2 separate regions of the Homo sapiens genome follow, and region 2 is linked to region 1. Evidence: fine-mapped expression QTL. Tissue or cell type: ovary. Region 1 holds a variant in brackets; the other region holds the start of a gene. All regions are shown on one strand. Distances are between the middles of the regions.

What was found. PIP is the estimated chance that this variant, and not a neighbour inherited with it, causes the effect.
Region 2: it holds the start of CCDC186, and the variant in region 1 is fine-mapped to the expression of CCDC186 in ovary (GTEx, PIP 0.98).

What each region holds. Positions count from the first base shown.
Region 1 is chr10:113,224,020-113,226,703 of GRCh38, reverse strand. No RefSeq gene overlaps it. Among named protein-coding and RNA genes, the nearest start is that of SNORA87, 180 kb to the right of the region's middle. The variant C/T (reference allele first, on the strand shown) is at 1,421.
Region 2 is chr10:114,173,038-114,175,721 of GRCh38, reverse strand. CCDC186 (coiled-coil domain containing 186) reads left to right here and starts at 1,519. Exons shown (of 16, transcript NM_018017.4): 1 at 1,519-1,707. It overlaps MIR2110 (microRNA 2110), which reads left to right and starts at 1,543; the gene lies at 1,543-1,617. It also overlaps a transcript of TDRD1 not described here. RefSeq lists a silencer at 1,184-1,453 and enhancers at 1,514-1,713, 1,309-1,837.

The DNA.
Region 1 (2,684 bases):
ACACCGGTCTTGATTTTTGAAACTGTTGAAAACTGTTTGATGTGGCAAAAACCAATCATGGGAGGGAAACCACAATTTAAGTGTGAGATAAAAAGGAACTATGCGTACATGTATGATGAGATGTTCACCCAATGGAAAAAACCGTTCACTGCCTTCCAGGACGGCCTCATGTGCTCCATTAACCCAGCGTCTCTCGAGAGGAGATGCCGCCAAGGATCAGTGATCAGCTCTGGCTGGAGAGCCAAAGAAGGTTTTCCATGCAAAAACACACATTGCTGGCCCTTCCTTTGAAATGGCGAGCAAGACTCTCTTTTTTTGTCTCTTTTTCTCTTTCATGACTGCTCATTTGACCTGGCCTACTGAAGAACTAAGTTAGAAGTTGAATTATTATTATTATTATTATTATTGTTATTTTTGCCCCTTTTGCTTAATCCACGGGCAGTGCTCAGCCCATGTTCCAATAAACATTAAGGACCAGAGTCACAGCTGACAGGAGTTTTCCTTGGGTTGATACGCTTTCAGACGTAGGCTCCAGGATCCACTACATCTAATCCTCCAGGATGTGCCGCATCTAGCATCTAACACGAGAACTCTAACATCTGCCGTTCATGATTTCCTGACCGGAAGACTGGGCACCTCGCTTCCAGCCTGGTTTAACCTCTAACTAACTCGGTCACGAGTTTGCACACGTCACTGTGTTTTCTGGGCCTCAATTTCTTTATGCCTTCTCCATTCTCCCACTTATTAAGGCTCAGAGTCAGAAGGTTATTGATGCCTCTGTCTTCATAGGCCACATTCCTAACCAGTTTCTGTCTTAGAGTCATGGCCTCCAACCACCCCTCCTTTCCATCCTGGCTGCCCTTGCCAGGGTTCAGGCACTCACCACCTCTTGCCTTGACACTACTAAGGGGTCCTAACACATCTCCCATCTCCAGTTTCTCCCCCTCTTCCTTCCTCCACTCCACCCTCACACCACTTTCAGATTCACCGCCTTAAACACTTCTCTAATTCTGTCCTTAACCTGTTCAAAGCCCATCAGTGGTTCCCCATTGCCTCTCAGTAAAGGTGATACTGTGCTTCTCACTCAGCCAGTCCCACTCCTCTACAAGCTGCCTCAGCCTCTGTTTTTGTCCCACTGCTCCCCTAAAAGCACCAACTCTCCAGCCAGATAGCACAGCTTGCTTTTCCCACACCCCCTGTGCCTTCTGTCCCCACCCACTCACTCACCCTGAGTTCTCTTTCTGGAGTGGCCTCTACCCACCACCTCCACCTGCACTCCGATCTCTGTAGAGAAAAAGCTTTTCTATTTGCTTTATGTATAAGAAAGCTAAGCAAAACATTATTCATTATTATTCATTATTATGAGAAAATAGAAACAAATTGAATGTCGTATTGGAAAATAGTTAACTTACTGGACAAT[C/T]ATGCATAACTTTATAAATCATGTCTTTGAAGAATATTTAATGATATGTGAAAACCCATTATTCTGCTAAGTGAGTAGACTTCAAAAGTATTTATTCAGTATAAGCCCAATTTTGTGAAATATATATGTGTATGTGTGCAGATGTATGTGCATATGTGTGTGTGTGTGTGTGTGTGTGTACACACACATCAATAAAAATCTGGAAGAATACATCAAAATGTTACTTGTGTTTTCTCTCTGGGTGCTGGGATTATGAGTATTTTAATTTTCTTCTTTATGCTTCTTATATTTGCTATAATGAACTGTATTGTTTTTATTATTTAAAAGTATCAGAAATAAAACAGTGAATAGCCAGGTGCAATGGCACATGCCTGTAGTCCCAGCTGCTTCAGAGACTGAGTTGGGAGGATCACTGACCCCAGGAGTTCGAGGCTGGCCTAAGCAACATAGCAAGATATCATTTCTTTAAAAAAATAAGTGAGCAAATAAACAATAAAAATCCTACCATCGTCCAAATGTCACCTCAAAGTTTACTCTTTCTTCAAAGCCTGTTTTGATGCTGTACTTCATGCCCCCAACCACTGACTTATACCAATTGGATATAACTGTCTCTTCATTTGAGCCCCCTACCATGGCACGTGCTTTGTATTTGAGCTATTGTGTACATCTTTACCCCTCCCTCTCGACTCTGCAGGGCCTGGGAGCAAGGACTCCAAATCATGATTGCCTCCTCACTCAGTCCAGCACACAGCTGAGTGCGCCCTATGAGTGTTTTCCACCTGAGTTGGCCACACTCAGGCTCTATGGCTAAAAGGGTCATTGCCTGGAGAGTCTAAACATCTATATTAACCATCCTAGGCATCTCAGTGCATCTTGTCCTGCAGGGAACTAGGCTGAAGAGACGTAGCTCGAATAACTTCTATTTATTTATTTCTTCAGAAAAGAAGAGAACGGCAGTGTCAACTCACCTCTGGTCTCTTCTTGTTAGCAAGTTCAAGAGACACTTGGCGATATTGACTGCAGAATACAAAGATGAAATTCAAGGGTTCCTAGAGGGTGTCTGTCCGTAGAAACAAAGGACATCCTCATCTTGAAAACGTAAGTAGTAGATGTACAGTCATGACTCATTCCCTTCACCTCCTAAGTCTTGGGCTAGAAGTGTTGGATGTCATAGACTGAGACCAACATGGCCAGCCATCTCACCCTAATCTCTAGTACGAGGGTTTTCCAAGAGTTGTCATCAACTTGGACCTCAATCCACGAC
Region 2 (2,684 bases), 950 kb before region 1:
CTTTTGGGTACAGTTCATGTTATCTTTGCTTTTCTTCCTTGCTTTCTGCTACAAGCAATATGTCCTAGGCTATCTTGCATATTTCTTGCCCCTACTGGGAATCAGCACTTAACCTCCAAGAGAAGCCAAGGTAACTTTTTTTGGGCAATGCTCTTTAGAGATCACAATCTGGGGAATAGGAGTGTGCAATGGGTTGGTCACTGTTCTAAGAGTTTTCAGTGGACACACCTTTTTTTTCACGAAAAAAATGTACCATGAGTTAATTCTGATATTTGTAAATTCAAATATAGGATTGCAGAATTTTAATATAATGTCTTTGGTTTATATTTGTATTTCTTTTCTCTTATGGTGAAAAACTTGGTTCACAAAGATATATTTATATACTTTATACTAATTATAAATTCAGAAATATTCAGAAATAGTAATACCTATGTTATTACTGACGAGTACCGAAAACAGCTTAAGGTTTCTTCAGTTTTTTCCCCTTGGATTAATGTCTCCCTAGGAAGGCTTGGTCGATTTATTGTTTTAAAGTCAAATCATTTATTTTCTATGACAAGACACTTTAACTGCAAAATGTGCTTCAGTGTAGTACCTTCATTTAAGGAGGAGTGAGGTGCCATTACACCTCCGTGTGTGTGTTTTGCCAACAGTATCGAAGACGCTTAACAGAACAGTAGTAAGTTTTGCTTTACAAATTCTTACATTGCAGAATCGTCTGCATCAGCTATTTTCATTCATGAGATATGTGTAAGACCTAAACCAAAGAACATCGTTTCCCCGGACTGAGGAGGTTTGCGAAACCTCCAGAGACTGAACTGCTGACCTTCCTTCTCTGGGCCGGGCGAGGCAACTGTACCCAATACACTTTTTGTTGCCATGCTGCGTGCCAGGTTACTCAGCCGGGAGAGGACACTTCCTACCATCAATGCGCTCAGCTTGAAGCCAGAGACGAAGGCACCGACAGTTTATTATTAAACAATGGCAGCAGCGCCACGCTGAAGACACGAACGCGCTGTTATGGAACCCCCAGAGGTCTCCCCCATCGTAGCCTGCTCCAGCCGACTCCGCCCACGTAAGGTGCAAGGTTTCCGCATGAGAGCCGGGAAGCCACAATTTCAAATTCTCTTTTATTGCTTTATGTCCCTGACTCATGCAGGCCAAAGGGTGAGGAGGAGTAATAGCCAACAAGAGCGTCCTGCAGAAAGAAACAGGCTGCGTGGGTCCGGAGGAGCTTGAAAGGAAGAACCCGACCAAAGGGCAGGAGACCCGGCTCTCCAGGTCGCGGAGGCGTGGGTGCCCAGCCAGGCGGAGTGCGGGGCGGGGCCTCTCGGGCCGCAAGGTGGGGCCTCCTGGGCCGGGAGGTGGGAGGTGAGCTCCGCCAGCCCAGCCCACTGCAGACAGGTTACCCAGGACCTCAAGGTGTGCTGCGTCACCCCGCCCGCGCTGCGCTGATTGGTTCCTCCAGGGAGCCCCCGCCCCCTCAGCTGTAACCGGGCCGGCTTCAGTGTCGCCGCCATCTTTGTTGATGTGTCAGCTCCGCAGGGGTTTGGGGAAACGGCCGCTGAGTGAGGCGTCGGCTGTGTTTCTCACCGCGGTCTTTTCCTCCCACTCTTGGCTGGTTGGACCCCGCTATGGAAAAGTTGGCCCCTGAGCCAGAGCTCCAGCAGCCTTGTTAGGGCGTGGCCTGAGGCTTGGATAAGTGGGGTAAGTGTCTGAGGGGTACTCGGGGCACACCGGTGAGTCGCGGTGGCGGTGCGGTGGGGCTGCCAGCCTTCCGCTCCTTCCTGCACGTTCCGTGGCGGGGGCGAGGGCGAGTGCGAGGTGGAGGTCGAGGTCGAGCGGGCTCCCCGCCTGGCTCCTTTGAGGGCGCGGAGGAAGGGGAGGGCTGGGGAACGGGTTTCAAGCCCTTTCCTCTCCCTGCCTTCCTCCTTCGGTTCCGGGACCTTGGAGGTGGCAAAGAGGGGTCAGCGGGGGTCGTGGGGGCTGTGCCTCGAGAGCGTCTGAATTCGAGCCCATTGCCTGGGCTGCGTGTGAACTGCAGCCAAGCCCTACCTGCTCGAGAATCTTTCCTAGACTCAATCGCCTATTTCGTTTTTCGTCTCAAGTTGACTGTATGTGGGTGTTTTATATTTACTGTTGTGAAGACTTGTTACCCTCTTCCAAACACTTCCATTACTGTGATTCTAAGTTCCTTAGAAGTGATTCTTTGGAGTGGTGGATACTGTTCTTTATGTTGTCTTTCAAGGACGTCAAGGCATTTCATAAACCTTGGTTGGTAAGGAAGGGGTTTCAGATTTATGTCTCCATCAGTAATGAAAAATGGCAAAAACAAAACAAAAACCCTTCTACGTGTCCCTAAGTAGCAATCTTGGGAAACAGTGCAGGTGTGAGTATTGCTTAGCTGTTAACAGTTTAACAACTTCACCTAATATTCCCATCTTGATTTTGTTTAGAGGAAAAAGTCCTGGATTTCGAGTCAGAACATCTGGATTAGAATCCTACTTCTTTCACTTGATAATCTTGTTACCTGTGGAAATCAGAAGAGAGAATATAGTAAAAATACGCAGTACAGTCCCAGGTACTTGGCCGTTTTCTCTGCATGTGTGTCATGTTCCTTTGATGCCCAGCTTTTTTTTCTTCCAAAACGATAGGCCGGGTGTTGTCTTCTAAGGTGTTCAGTA